2 separate regions of the Homo sapiens genome follow, and region 1 is linked to region 2. The links come from fine-mapping of genetic effects on gene expression. Tissue or cell type: lung. Region 2 holds a variant in brackets; the other region holds the start of a gene. All regions are shown on one strand. Distances are from middle to middle.

What was found. PIP is the estimated chance that this variant, and not a neighbour inherited with it, causes the effect.
Region 1: it holds the start of FBXO32, and the variant in region 2 is fine-mapped to the expression of FBXO32 in lung (TOPMed, PIP above 0.99).

Annotation. Positions count from the first base shown.
Region 1 is chr8:123,537,660-123,545,764 of GRCh38, forward strand. FBXO32 (F-box protein 32) reads right to left here and starts at 3,547. Exons shown (of 9, transcript NM_058229.4): 1 at 3,240-3,547. The coding sequence starts at 3,355. RefSeq lists silencers at 3,444-3,533, 3,584-3,693, 3,784-4,073.
Region 2 is chr8:123,492,101-123,500,205 of GRCh38, forward strand. FBXO32 (F-box protein 32) reads right to left here. Exons shown (of 9, transcript NM_058229.4): 9 at 5,789-8,105. Among named protein-coding and RNA genes, the nearest start is that of FBXO32, 45 kb to the right of the region's middle. The variant C/G (reference allele first, on the strand shown) is at 5,014.

The sequences.
Region 1 (8,105 bases), 46 kb after region 2:
CACTCACAAGGCTAGCACCCGGAATGCTCTGGTGAAACAAACAGCCTAGTGTATAACGCTCATAGAACAGTGCCTTGCACACAGTAAGCACTCATAAAATCTTAACTATTATTTTTATCCAGTCACCAAGGTAAACTTCCTGCTTCCGGGTCCAGCCTCAGCCATACAGTAAAGTAACATTTGAGTCAGTCTTCAATGACAGAAGTGTAGGCTTAGAAAAGAGTGGCAGAGGCTCAGACAGCTTAGGTTACTCATCCTGGGGGTGGGCGGTGAGGGGGTGGTTGCTGAGGAAGGCTGTGCGGGTGCCTGAACCACCACTTCCTTGAAGCATTCTTGGATCATCCCAATTCACGCCAAGCTCTTTCCTTGCATTTTAAATCTGCCCCAGCATATTTAACACTTGCCATTCCCCTTCTATTTTATATAATTTCAACATTTTTGAGAAGGGGTCCTGCTTTAAGCTTATCTTAAATCCTCCCATGATCTCACTCCTGGACACATGGCTGGGACTGGATTTGTAACATTCTACACTGGAGAAGGTTGGAGTCCTAGACCACAGAGAAGATGGCCAGCTGAGTCCAGAATAGGTGTGCTGTGTGGACAAGACTTGGTCAACACGAAACAATAACCCCAGGCTGAAAACCACCAAATGCATCCTTCATCCCGGGCTCTTGTTTGGGCCGTTTGCAGAATGGTCTGTGGAATTAGAGAAGTCAGTCTACCATGTCTCTGTAGTTCTCTGTTTCACGGTCCCTCCCCGCTTAAGGGCCTGCCTTTTGTTTTCTCATAACAGGAGAGGCATTCAGCTTCACCTGTGCAGGCAGGCACGCAGTCCAAACCTGACATCACGGGGAAACATCACCAAGACCAAAAACAGTGAGGATATTTGAGATGACAAACCCAGACCACAGAAGGCCAACTGCTTTTAAGAAGTTGCAGGCTTCTCATGCTAAGCAGGGAAGGGATTGTTTACAGTTGCTGGAAAAAAAAATACCCTGCAAACAAACAGCCAGCTGCTTTGCTAGGAGGCTACCAAATGATTCCTAAACGCTGACTCAAAGGACCACAGGTGGTCAGTATATCAATGACTATTTGCGGTAATGATGATGGATGTGACAGCTCCAGCTCAGGTGTGAAATGGGAAGAAAAAGAGGCTCATGAACAGGACACGGGAGGGGGGCTGTGCAGGAAACCACCTGATTCCAGCCCAGTCTAAACTTTTGTGGTAAGTTAAGACCATCTTCAGGTCTTCCATACTGTGAAGACAGAGATACCACTATTTCTAAAGGAGAGTGACACCAGTTTCTCTCCTGATGCCGGTATAGGGTATTTTAAAACAAATTTTAAATTTTTATTTATTTTTAGAGACAGGGTCTCGCTCTGTGGCCCAGGCTGGAGCGCAGTGGCACAGTCATGACTCGCTGCAGCCTTGAACTTCTGAGCACAAGCCATCCTCCCACCTCAGCCTCCCGAGTAGGGTAAGTATTAATACGACCCTACATTTTAAATCTTCTGCTGAACTCAATCATCTGTTCTCCACTGAGGAGCATCCTGCAATTATATTTGGGTGAGCAGCTCTAACATGACTCTTCAGACCCTTTCGGCACTTTTCTAGAAAGAACCTGAACTTGTATACAGAAATAAAGTACCAACATATTAGATCATTGTCCTTAGGAACAAGGAGGAAGGAAGGAAGGTTCCCATTTTGTTGAGGGAGAATAATTTAGGCATAATTGGTAACTCCAGTCGATAAAAGACATAGTCTGTCAATAGCAGTTGGTCTTACTTTCCCGTAAATAAATTACTTGATTTTACGTAAATAAGATTTCCTTATGGTGGTCCCTAAACTCCCCTGGGACAGCCTCCAAGTAACTCCAACGTAAATGGTTATATGCTGGTGGTTAATACGCTCAAGTCTCTCCGGACAGACCCCCAGAATTAAATAATGTCTTTCTTTACATTGTGAGACAATGGGAATTTGATGCATTACAAATCACAAACAAATGGGAGGCACGGGAGTTCAAGTTGCCAAAATAACCACATTTTCTTGATAGTTTTCTCAAAATTTATTGCCAATGCTTCATCCAAGCAACGACTGGTAAATCTCAGTAAGCGGGAACCTGGCCCAGAAACAGAATTCTCCATTGAAGTCAATTTAAGGGTGCAGGGGCCCATGGTTTTAACCAAAGGTGGCAGGAAAAGGCTCCCAAGGGTGACTCTGGCTGCACCAGTCCATTCTGGAATCACTTTCATCGCCCCCGCTCACCGGGCTAAATGCTGAGAGTCTCTGAAAGTCAACTGTCGAGGTCAGGGGCTGAGAAATTCCAGGCTACCTTGCGTACTAGCCGGCGCTGGCATCGTTAGCCAAGCTGAGCAGGGAGCGCAGCGGACCTCAGGTTTCCCGCCAGACCACAGAGCTCAGGTGAGGCCTCGAATCCAGAGGCTCACCGGGGCCAGGCAGGCTTTTCGCAGCTGACAGGCACCCCTGGAAACGGAGTGCACTCTATACAAAGCAGACCGACCGAGAGGGCCACCGAGGAAACAGGTGCAAGAGCCCTGTCCTCCCAGAAGCAGAGCTCTTGTGGGATTCATCCCCTGCCCCCTTCCCTCCTTTGCACCTCTGCAGCCCCAAGCCTCCACCGCTCGCAAGTCCGCCCAGTAAGCGGCTGCCCCAGGGACCATCTGGCCGTCCCTTCCTGGTTACTCATCCTCCCGGCCACTTCGTGGTTGCCCGTGCCTGGGCAGGGCCTGGAAGCGCTCCAGGCGGGACCTTCGTCGGATCCCGTCACCTGTCGCGTCCACAGCGCTTGGGCGCTGGGAGCCGGGCCACCCCGCGGTGAAGGGGCTCAGCCCACCCGCCCGCGCCCCCACATGGGCAAAGTGCGCGACTCCGGTGTCCTTAAAGCAGGGACCACTAAAGCTGTGTGATTAAGTTTGAGCGAACGTTTGGGGACACGATCCGCGAATGTCATCAGACTCTCAGAGGGACCAGGTGTTCTGTAAGGAGTCGTGTCCACTTGGAGACACTGACCTTGAACAATAAGAGAAACCGAATTCCCTGTCTCCGGTGGTCCGAAGACCTCTGCAGAAATCGGGCCCCGTAGTCCCACCCTCCGGGTCAGGGTCTCCCTCCTCAGCCCGCTCCAGCCCTGCCTGCCCCTCATTCGCCGTCCCTGCGCCCCCCAGACCAGCCCGGGTCAGTTTCGCGGGGGCTGGAAGTTGGTAGCGGGTCCCCTCACCTGCTGAGGTCGCTCACGAAACTGCCGCTCTTCTCATCCAGGAAGCGCTTCCAGCCGTCGGCCGTCTTCACCCAGTTCTGCCCGGGGGACCGCCAGTCCTGCCCGAGGAATGGCATGGCACCGCGAGCGGACTAGACGGATGGGGAGACGGGGCCGGCCTGGTGGGCTCGGGGACGTGCCACCCGGGGCGGATGCTCGGGGTGCAGGGGCCCGCGACGGGGGCGGCGGGGCGGCGGGAACGGCGCGGGGCACCCTGCGGGGTGGCGGGCGCGGAGAGGATCTCAAGCGTTGCAGGCTCCGGGAGTGCTGCGCGGCAGTAGCTGCCGCAGTATTTATCCCCGCAGCCGGCCGCAGCTCTTTGTTGCCGGAAGAGCCGCCCGCTCTTAGCCCGGCCCCCCGGCCCGGAGGCCACGTGGCTTTGTTTATGGGCTCGGCTTGTTTTCCGAGGCGCCTGCGGCTCACGCTCCCCTCCCGGTTGCACAACCGCGCCGGTGGAAACTTGAAGCGGTGCTGCCGGGCCGGGTACCCCGCCGCCCCTGGCACCTCCGCGCGCCCTCCCCGCCCCCAGGACACCGTTGTCCCAGAGCGAGGCCCGGCGCTTGGAAAGATGCGCCCCGGTCTCCTGCAGCTCCCGGGCTGACGGGGTGCAGGGAGGGGGCCGGAGGGGCGTCTGGGTCCCTGCGGGGTGGGCGTGAGGAGCAGGGCCAGCCCCCCTCCTGCCCCCGAGCTATCAGGATCGACCTCCGCAGCCAGATCAGCCTCCCGGGCCGTCCGCAGAGCTGGGGCCGGCACCGCGCCCGCCGGGCGGGGAGTAGGGGGCGCAGCCTCCTGACCTCGCTCACTGCCCCAACCCCGCCCTAGCGCGCGGGGGTTGGAGCGGGGAGGAGGGACAGCCTCCCAGCCCTCCGGGCCCCTTAGCTGTCACTAACCAGTCCTCCTTCAGACCTGCCCCTGGGGCAGCAAAGGAGGGGAAGGAGAGGAAGCCCTGGGAGGTATCTGGCTCCCGCAGGTTGGGAGTGGAGAAAAAGAACAGCGCCCCTATCCTACCCGAACCCTCTAAGAGACGGGTTAAATGATGTACCCAGGGCCAATGCTACAGTACAATCTGAAACTACCCTGTTTGCTTTTACTTTTTGCTGTTGTTACAACAATCTACCCCTGTCTGCAGTGGGAACTCCATGAGAGCTGGTCTGTCTTGTTCCGGAGGCATTTCAGCCCCTGCACCCTGCCAGGCCCAGTGCAGGCCTTCAACAACTATTTGTGTGAATAAGTGAATGGATACGGGAGGCTGCTGGCATGAGGGTGGCTTCTTGCCCTTCATCACCTCTAGTTATGATGCTTTACAGCCTGGTCTATTTGGCAATTAGTTTGCACAGGACAGCAGCAGCAGAGTAAAAATCCCATACTCAAGCATTAGCTTCAAACTTCATTCTTCCATTCTTCTTTCTCTGCAGCCATCAATATCATCTAGTCCACTGACTCGGTGTAATCTTTAAGGCTCAGGCAAAGAAATTGTGTGTGCCCTATGAGGCTACATGTTGGACTGGGAAGACGTTTTTAATAAAGTTTGTTTTCAAGAAGCCAGAGCTTTCTGATTTAGATTTCCCACCGTAAATAATTTATTAGTGTAGTAATAGTAAAAAAAAAGCTTGTAAAAACATTGAAGAAGTCCCAAACAAATGTTAAACACTGTGATGGTGCTAACAAATGAGGCAGTGTTGGGTCTGGTCTCTGTTGGAGGGAATTGGTATCTGCATAATTAAGGGATGTGATTATTATTATTATTATTTTTGAGACAGGGTCTCATTGTGTCACTCAGGCTAGAGTGAGTGATCATGGCTCACTGTAGCCTCAGCCTCCCCAGCTCAAGCCATCCTCCCACCTCGGCCCCAGTCTCCAGTAGCTGAGACTACAGGCACTCACCACTGCACCAGGCTAATTTTTTATATTTTTTGTAGAGATAGGGTTTTGCTATCTTGCCCAGGCTAGTCTTAAACTCCTGGGCTCAAGTGATCCTCCTTCCTTGGCCTCCCAAAGTGTTGGGATTACAGGCGTGAGCCACCATGCCCGCCTGGGATGTGATTATGAACAATGTGGGTTAGTTATGTATTAGTAAGCTGGCTACATACCTGTAGAGACCACAGAGGGCCAGAAGGTAGAAGTTTTGAATTCTAATTCTGCTGGAGCAGCATACTACCTGTCCTCCCTTGGATGAATGACTTAAACTCTTAGGGCCCCATTTACTTAACTGTCAAGAAAAAATGGAGCCAATAATGCCTACCTTTCAGGATGGTTTAAAAGCTGTGGTAGATTGAATTATTAGTACCCATTCTTCCCTCCTTTCCAGTAGCGTCATGTGCCCACACTTTTTGGTGATGTGTATTTTTCTAATTCTTGACAATGGGCTTGGCCATATGACTGGCTTTAGCCAAGGGGATGCTGATGGATGTGATGTGAGCAGAGGATCTGATGTATGTACTTGCCTGGTTGGTCTTGATGTTTTGTGTGTTCACCTGCTCCATGAAAAGAGCATACCCTGTGTAGCCACTGCTCCTGGAGTGGTTTGAGTGACATCCGTGTGTCCCAGGATGTGACACATGGAGCAGACACTCCCGTTGACCTCACAGATGTGTTAGCAAGAAATAAATGTGTCTTGTTGATGCCACTGAGATTTTTGTGATTTACTGTTACACAGCATTATTGTGTCGATAGCTGACTACTATAAAGGGTTGAGTGGCTCAAAGTTGGTGAAAGTTTCTTTAACTTCTAAAATTCAAGCACAAATAGGAAATTACAATTATTTTTGTCCTTGTCTTTTTGTCTAATAACTAATCTTAGGAAGCCTCAGTGTTTGTCTCTAGTCCTTCCGCTTTCTGTTCCTTAAAACAAACAAACAGAATTGTTGCTATCATATCTTAATGCAGGCTTCTTCTGAAGTGTGATTGACTATTTCAGATTTCTCTTACCATAAAAAAATCTAATTTGAGACTTCTTTTTTTTTTTTGAAACAGAGTCTTGCTCTATCACCCAGGCTAGAGTGTACCGGTGCAATCATGGCTCACTGCAGCCTTGAACTCTTGAGCTCAAGTGATTCTCCTGCCTCAGCCTCCTGAGCAGCTAAGACAACAGGCGTGCACCACCATGCCTGGTTGATTAAAACATTTTTTTTTTGGAGAGATGGGGTCTTGCTATGTTGCTCGGGCTGGTCTCAAACTCTGGCCTCAAGTGATCCTCCCGCCTTGGCCTCCCAAACTACTAGGAGTACAGGCATGAGCCACCATGCTCAGCTGACACTTATTTAAACATGGTTTCTACTGGGAAGTTTTGTAATGCTGGACCCCTCAAGATAAAGAACTTGCTAGGCTATGTCCAGAACAGTTACCTTCAAATCAGATGGGGGCTTGAACTTTGTAAAGACTCTGTGATTGTAAGCCCTATCATAGCTGAGCATTTGAGAATCACCAAAAGCAAAATATCAATGTTATAGCTTCAGGCTGAAGACATAGAGACAGATAGATACTCAGAGAATTTCACAAGGCACAGCACAGACTGGTCAGGACCCCATGTAGCCTAATGGTGTGTGCAGTGTACATGATGTATGTACCATGGCTGTGTGTTTCATTGCTTAGACACTTAGCTACTGCCTTTCCTGCACTGTTTTGTATAACACATTACCCAGATTACATACTGGGTGTTTGATTTTTTGTGTTTTCTTCTCCTGTCTAGGACTGTGAGCTCCTTGATGGCAGGGCTGTGTCTTAGGAGTTTAGTGCCACAGTGTCTAATAAGGTTCTTGGTACACGGTACATTTACATCAACAAATCAACAAATGGGCCCAACGCGGTGGCTCACACCTGTAATCTCAGCACTTTGGGAGGCTGAGGCAGGTGGATCACCTGAGGTCAGGAGTTTGAGACTAGCCTGGCCAACATGGTGAAACGCCATCTCTACTAAAAATATAAAATTTAGCCAGGCGTGGTGGTGGGTGCCTGTAATCCCAACTACTCAGGAGGCTGGGGCAGGAGAATCGCTGGAACCCGGGAGGTGGAGGTTGCAGTGAGCTGAGATCGCGCCACTGCACTCCAGCCTGGGTGATAAGAGTGAGATTCCTTCTCAAAAAAAAAAAAAAAAAAATCAACAAATGTTGTTGAACTGACCTGGAAGGCTGTTATTCCCATGTCTTTACCTGTTGACATTTTATTACTTCTAGGGACATAGCAGGGTGGAGCAAAGGGAGGGTTGGCAGCCCCCAGTCCTACCTCGTATAGCTGCATTCTCCAATAGTGATGCTTTATGGGTTAGTGAGGCAGATGGGGAAGGTAGTCAAAAGGTGGTATCTTAGAAAAAATATGTTTTAATGTCCTATTCCATTGATGATAGATGCCTGCCATGCTGAGGACAGTGTGCCAGTCACTTCACAAACACAATCCTGTTACATACTCCTCATAAACCTGTGGGCTAGGAATTGCTATTCCCATTTTATAGATGAGGAAACTTCAGCTCAGAAAAGTTGAATAGCCTGCGTGAGATCACCTAGCAAATGTGGTGGGACTCCAACTGGTACCCAGGCTTATCTCTAACCCTGACTAGAGCCAGACTCACTGGGTTCAAATCACATTCCCCACCTAAAAAGCTGTGTGATCTTGGGCAAGTTACTTAACATCTCTGTACCATACTTCCTTTATTTGTAAAATGGAAATAATGATAGTACCTACCTCAAAGGGTGTTTTGAGGATTTATTGAGATAATATGTATGAAGAACTTCTAACAGTGCCAATGACAATGGGTCTTTATTGTCATTATCTTTATGCAAAGTTTACACCTCCATCTTTTACTCGGTTAAGCCATGTCCACCTTCCCCATCAA
Region 2 (8,105 bases):
ACCATCCTGGCTAACACCATGAAACCTCGTCTCTACTAAAAATACAAAAAATTAGCAGGGCATGGTTGCGGGCACCTGTAGTCCCAGCTACTCGGGAGGCTGAGGCAGGAGAATTGCTTGAACCTGGGAGGTGGAGCTTGCAGTGAGCCGAGATTGTGCCACTACACTCCAGTCTGGGCGACAGAGTGAGACTCTGTCTCAAAAAAAAAAAAAGAAGAAAGAAAGAAAAAAAAGAAATTGACTTATGCAACTGTGAGGGTGGCAGGTCCAAAATCTCCAGGGTAGGCTGGCAGGCTGGAGACCCAGGGAAGAGTTGATGTTGCCATCTTGAGTCCAAAGGCAGTCTAAAGGCAGAATTCCTTCTTCAGGAGATGTCACTCTGTTCTCTCAAGGCCTTCAGCTGATTGGATGAGGTATACCCACATTATGGAAGGCCTTACCCACGGTCTACTGATGTAAATGTTAATCACACCTAAAAAATACCTTCACAGCAACAACTAGACTGATGCTTGACCAAATGACTGGGTACCATGGCCTAGCCAAGTTGACACATAAAATTAACCATCATAGAACCACTTGAAGGGAGCTGAGGTTCATTTGAGCTTCTGTTAGTTTTCTGGAACACTGGGAAAGCTCTGGTACTGAGACCCCAGGGGACACAGCTTTAATTCTCTCTAAAAGGGAACTCTGTCCAAACTTTAGAGTAGTTTTTTTCCCCTCCCAAGAAATCTATCAATGCACAGAATGGACTTTGGTTGGTAAGTGTTAAGTATTGGTCTCTGGCCCTTGATCCCTAGTGCCATTTCTGGCTTCCAACAAAGGAGCTCATGCTTCATCCCACATTGTTCTCCTTCTCAAAAACGTGAACTCAGTTCTTCTTCCTATCTGAACTCCTCTAGTACCTTGTAACTGACTCTGGGCATTTAAAACTTTGGCTCCTGTATTGTAATTGATAACACATTTTCCAGCCCCTCCCACTCCTCCACCAGCAGGTAAGTTCCCTGAGGGCAAGGGCTAAGCTCACACTTCTGCCTGGCTGCTCCAGTGCCCACGACACTGCTGCTTCATAAACATTGCTCAGTGGAGACAATTTGCAACACTGATTCTCTGTGATGTTTCTTGGGCAGAAACGTGATTGGTGTCAGCCTCAATTTAAGCCTATGTAAAACAGGAAGGAGAAAACTTTACACCTACCATGGACAGAGGCTGACACCGCTTGTCTAGCTTTTGCACTGCCACGTATCTGGCGGTCAAAATAAGTCTTGCTTCTGAATTAGGCTGTGAAGATGGTTGTGCCTTTTATTTTCAGACAGATCCTTGCCCAGCTTGGGCTGAGGGCTATGCAGCATTAGGGACAGTGGGAATTTGTCTGGGGTGGGGGCAGAACTGGCAGGGAAAAGCTTTTGTAGGGGTGGGCTGCTAGACGTACTAGAGAAGCTGCCAGCTTAACTGTATTCGTTTCCTATTACTACTGCAACAAATCACACCTTCAGTGGCTTAAAACAACACAAATTTGTTATTTTTATAGTTCAGCAGGTCAGATCTGACATAGGTTTTGGTGGACTGATGTCAAGATGTCATCAAGACTGTTCCCTTCTGGGAGCTCTAGGGGAGAATCTCTTTCCTTGCCTTTTCCCGATTATAGGCACTGCTCTCATACCTTGGCTGGTGGTCTCCTCCTCCACCTTCAAAGTCAGCAAGGGCCAGTGGAGTCCTTGTGTTGCATCAGTTTGACCTCCGCTGCATTCCTCTTGTACTTTTAAAGACTCTGCCATAAATGTTACACTGGGGCTGGGTGCGCTGGCTCATGCCTGTAATCCTAGCACTTCGGGAGGCCAAGATGGGTGGATCACCTGAGGTCAGGAGTTCGACACCAGCCTGGCCAACATGACGAAACCCTGTCTCTACTAAAAATACAAAAATTAGCCGGGGGTGGTGGCAGGCATCTGTAATCCCAGCTACTGGGGAGGCTGAGGCAGGGGAATTGCTTGAACACAGGAGGCAGAGGTTGCAGTGAGCTGAGATTGCGCCATTGCACTCCAGCCTGGATGACAAGAGTAAAACTCCATCTCAAAAAAAAAAAAAAAAAGGCTGGGCGTGGTGGCTCACGCCTGTAATCCCAGCACTTAAGGCCATGAGGAGGGCAAAGCATAAGGTCAGGAGATCGAGACCATCCTGGCCAACATGGTGAAACCCCGTCTCTACTGAAAATACAAAAATTAGCTGGGCGTGGTGGCGTGTGCTTGTAGTCCCAGCTACTCGGGAGGCTGAGGCAGGAGAATCACTTGAACCTGGGACGTGGAGGTTGCAGTGAGCCGAGATCACGCCACTGCACTCCAGCCTGGCCACAGGGTGAGACTCGGTCTCAAAAAAAAAAGAAGTTACACTGGGCTCACCCAGATGGTCCTGGATAACCCCTACATCTAGAGGTGCTTAATTTAATCACATCTGCAATTTTACCTTTAACATGAAGCAACATATTCATAGGTTCCAGGAATTAGGATGTGGACATCTTTAGAGAGCTATTATTTTGCCTACCATGGTGGCCTTATGATTTCCATTTAACATAAGTGATTAGTGTAAGATATGATTTTAAATGGAAAGATGTGATAGTTTCACTTGTTTAACAATGTTAGAGTTTCTAAGAGAGTTTGAGATAAAATACATTTATGCTTAATTTGTGAAATTTGTAACTTATTTACTTGAGAATGTTTTGCTTATTAAGGCTGTAAGCTTATCTGAGCAAGTATTTGCAGTGTTTTTTCTTTTTGTTTTGTTTTGTTTTTGGGACAAAGTCTCACTCTGTCCCCAGTCTAGAGTGCAGTGACACGATCTCAGCTCACTGCAACCTCTGCCTCCCAGGTTCAAGTGATTCTCCTGCCTCAGCTTCCCGAGTAGCTGGGACTACAGGTGTGCACCACCACACCCAGCTAATTTTTCTATTTTTAGTAGAGAGGGGGGTTTCACCATGTTGGCCAGGTTGGTCTCGATCTCTTGATCTCATGATCCGCCCGCCTCGGCCTCCCAGAGTGCTGGGATTACAGGCGTGAGCCACTGCGCTCAGCCTGCAGTGTTTTTTTAAAAAGCAAATGCATTCAATTTATAATTGAAGTGCTTAAAAATCAAATGTATCAGATTTATAATTGCAGCTTTAAAATGTTTAAAGGATTTTTTTATTAAGTTTGTAAAAGAGAATTACTTTTTAGTGGGACTGTGATCTATTAAATTTGAGTTTATTAAGAGTAATAAAAGATCCTATTATTTTGTATTAAAATTTACTAGGCTTGTAAATATCAAGATTTGTTAGTGGAATTTAAAGGCAACTTTAATGAAAACTGGGTCTCTGTATTTGTTACTTTATCAACAGACATTAATTTTAAATCAAAAAGCTGTAAATAATTCTGTCTATGACATAAACTCATGCCAATTTTTGTTCTAGTTAAGTGTGGGTATATGGTCCTAAGACTTTCAAAAGCATTTTTTGAATGTATATATCGTGGTCCCCAACCTTTTTGGTACCAGGGACTGGTTTCTGTGGACTGGGCGGGTGCGGGGGGGATGGTTCTGGAATGAAACTGTTCTATGTCAGATCATCAGGCATTAGATTTTCACAAGGAGCACACAACCTAGATGCCTCACCTGCGCAGTTCACAACAGGGTTTGTGCTCCTATGAGACTAATGCCACCGCTGATCTGACGGGAGGTGGAGCTCAGGTGGTGACACTCACTTGCCTGCTGCTCACCTCCTGCTGTGTGGCCCGGTTCCTAACAGGCCATGGGCCAGTGCTGGTCCATGGTCTGGGGGTTGGGGACCCCTGGTATATATGGTCCTATTAATTCATTCAGCCCTGGCACTGTGCTAGGTACTATGCAATTGCCACAAGTAAGACTACGATGTAACAAAGTCCCTAGGCAAAGAAGTGTGATGGGAAATGGGATTCACTCAGCTGGATGAGGCTTTAGTGAGGAAGTGGCCCAAAGGTGCTAATCAGACAGATGATAGATGGTAGGGGAAGAACATTCTAAGGAGGCACATTACCTGAGCAGAGAAGGCTTGTCATATTTAGGGAATGGTGAGATTTTGTGATCCTGGTGGAGGTTTAAAAAAATGATCTCTAATTACTCTCATGTACCTTCTGTCATTTTCTGATTGACAGTTAGTGGTCAGATCGGAGGGCGTCCCAGAGTGAAAGTATCAGGTAAGCCAATCTCCCGCAAGTCAGTCACCTGAATAAATCATACCCTCCTGGAAACACAGTGCAATTCTGAACCCGATTCTTAGACTCTTGTTGCTCAGGAAATAACAATAATCATTAACACTGCCTGTCTCCAAGCAGTTCATATGTGTTAGTTCACTTAACCCTCTGAGCCATAAGAGATAGGTATTCTTAGAGTCGAGGAAATTGAGACACAGAGGGCTGAAGTGAGGTGACAAAGGCCACTCTGCAGGTAAGTGGCAGGACCATGATTTGAACCTTGTACAAGCTGTTTCTCTTTTCAGAATGCTCTTGCCCTCATTCCTCTGGGGCTGGCTTCTTCAACATCACTTCTTCAGAGAGGCCCCTGCTGCTTCGGTCCTCACTGTCTTAACTGGGTCCCACTTGTTATTCTAGATCTCAACCCTTTGTTCATTCCCCTCATATTGGTTATTACAAATAACTTTTTTTACTTGCTTTCTCCCCCACCCCCCCTTTAAAAATATTTTTTATTTTTATTTTTAATTATTTATTTTTGAGACGGAGTCTCGCTCTGTCGCCCAGGCTGGAGTCCAGTGGCACGATCTCGGCTCACTGCAAGCTCCACGTCCCAGGTTCATTCCATTCCCCTGCCTCAGCTTCCTGAGTAGCTGGGACTACAGGTGCCCACCACCACGCCTGGCTAACTTTTTTTGCATTTTTAGAGATGGGGTTTCACCGTGTTAGCCAGGATGGTCTCGATCTCCTGACCTCGTGATCCACCTGCCTCAGCCTCCCAAAGTGCTGGGATTACAGGCATGAGCCACCGCGCCCGGCT[C/G]TCCCCCGGCTTTTTTTTTTTTTTTTTTTTTTTTGAGACAGAGTCTTCCTCTGTCACCCAGGCTGGAATGCATTGCACTATGTCGGCTCATTGCAACCTCCGCCTCCCAGGTTCAAGAGATTCTCCTGCCTCAGCCTCCTGATTAGCTAAGACTACAGGCACCTGCCACCACACCCAGGTAATTTTTGTATTTTTAGTAGAGACGGGGCTTTACCATATTGACCAGGCTGGTCTTGAGCTCCTGACCTCAAGTGAGCCACCCGCCTCGGCCTCCCAAAATGTTGGGATTACAGGTGTGAGCCACTGTACCTGGGCCCTCTTTCTTACTAAAATCTAAATTTCATTAAGGCAAGGACGATCCCATCCTTGTCACCAAAAAACAAAACAAAACAAAACCACACACAAAAGGCAGGGACAATTTCTGTCTTGTTCACTACCCTATTCCCAGTGCCTTGCACAGGTCTAGCATATAGTAGCTGTTCCATGAATGCCTGTTGATGAATAAATTGATGTTGACTTCAAAATTCATTATTCCTTAATCATTCTGCTGTGCAAACAGTATATGAAAACATTCAATTTAAGCATAATGCTGTATTACGGACTCAGGTTGGTATTCAGCAACAAGCTTATTTTTCTATGGATTCCTAGAAATTTTACAAAAATGGTAACAAGTTTCTGGGAGAAGGAATATAAGTCTAAATAGGCAAAAGATAAACATATTTGGTATGATAAAAAGCCAACTTGAATTGGGACATACTAAAAATGCACCAGTGTGTGTTGTTGGAAAAACATTTATTGCAATTCAGTGTCAAAAGTTTTTTACAAAAATATGCCACCGTCTGGTACAAACAACTATAAAAAATCAGTTCATCATGCAAGAAAAGTGTGCAAATAATTTATACAGAAGGACTCAGCTCACACAATATTAAATAAACATCTCTGCATGTAATTGGTCTAACTTTATGCTTTAGTTACAATGTTCAACCCCCTCTAATACTTTTCATTTAAAAAAGTACATTAAAGCTTCTAAGCTTAGGACACAGGCTGTAATATACGCCCACTTTAGCCATGGTGATTGGCACTTGGTAGAATAAAGATGGCACCAAGGATTCCCAAGTATAGAATACAGCTTGGAGCCTTCTGCTTAACAGACTTGTGCTTCGTTAATTAAACAAACACATCTATACTCAAAGACAGAAAAAGTCATGTTTAAACTCCAGAAATAATGTAGCAGATGGAGTTTTAAGAAGTTCAGAGTTTTGGAGCAGCCATCATTTTTGGCCAAATGGAGCAGGGCCTAAGTTTTGAGAGATTCTCCAGAAAGCTTTGTTTGCTGAGTGAATTCAAGGACACTTTGAAAAATGCCCAGCAGACAAAGTCATGAATATCATGGCCCCTTGCTCCTGGCTGCCTCATGGAATAATCCCCCTTTGCTTAGTAAAAGATGAAGTTTAGTGGAGAATGAACATCCGCTGGGCTAGAAATGCACTGAATCTCATAGCTGGTCCTGAAGGAGGAAATGGAGAAGATGGATTAAATGTACCTCTGAGTCTAGGGGAGAGGAAACACCTGCTTCGGAATCTCAGTTTCTAGGGAGCAAGCCACTGCCCAGCCCTTCTGTCTTTTTTTATAACGGCCATTTTTGTAATAAAAATGTAAGTACCCAAGGAAGAAATAAAATTGTCAAAATATGCTGCTTTCTTTATAGCAAGCAGGTTGTACTCACTGGAATGCCACATTCACAACAGAATCAGAGGTCTGTGAAAACATTAAGTGGCTCCTTAACTTCTCCAGTAAGAATCAGGGACTTGAAATGGAAACGTTAACAGCCACATGCCCAATGCTGGGCAGTCTCCCATGCCTTCCACAGTGAAGGGCTTGAGAAAAATCACATCCAATGTCATGTGTTTCCAGCCACACCAAAAGGTGCTTGGGGTGGAGGGCTGGGGGCATAGAAGGTCAGGCCTCAGGAGGCCTCAAGTTCGCATTCAGCTTTGCCACTGTACCAGGTGGGCTGACGCACATCCCCTAAACATTCTGGATCTCTTACTCATCGTGAAAGGCAGACGCTCTAAGTCTAAAGTCTAGGGTAGGAGTTTCCATTCTTTGGAAAACCAAAGATGGTTACTCTTCTTAATGAAACTGAGAAGAAGGTATCTACAGAAAACACTGAATTTAAACAAATTATGACCTTGTTTGTTGAAGCCATCAAGGACCCAAGATATATCAAAGAACAACATCTCTGTATTGGCCTACAGGTTCAGAGTGTTTTGAGGTCTGTTTAAGCACTAATAGGATTTTAGGCCAGCATCCAGTCAGAAGAGATAGTTCACAGACTCAGAGTTGGAAACAGATTAAAAAAAAAAAAAAGATGTCAACATAGAAAATGATGATAGAGTTTAGTTAAAAAAATTCACACATAAAATTACAGTTAAAAAAATTCACACATAAAATAGAGTGTTTGCATAGCAAGACATTATTGCCCTTCAGCCTGGCAGAAAAACATAAACTCAGGTGTATATTTTATAATAAACATTGTATTGAATGCTAAGAATGATACACTGTTGAACATCTCCTGAATGGTTTGCCTTCTTGTAAATCATACCAATTGTTTAGACAATTGAAATTCCAAGCTCTTTCTCTTCTCCCATATAAAAACAACAGAAACAGGAGGCTGTTAGTAGCAAGCTCCTCATGGGAAAGGGTATGTGAATCCACAAAGACGAGAACTATGGCAATAGCATAATACACACCCGCTACCTTACTGCCCAAGTGCTAGTAGAACCTGCTCTAGTGTTCAGAGTTTTGCAGTACAAACCCAGTCCCTCTGAAATACGTCTTCCAAGCCACTTCAATGTAAACCTGATCATCATTAAACAAAAATCATCTCACAACTGATACATTGGGGATGCTTTCACCTAATAGCTTTTGTTCATTTCTGCCATTTGCCCTCCCATTCAACTGATTTGTCTGCTCAAAGTAACAGCATTGAGTGATAATGCAATCTAGTTTAAAATGCCATTGGATTTTTTTTTTTCTGGATCTTGCTCTAGTGTGAGCACTCCTGAACTTCACATATTCTCCTTGTCCCA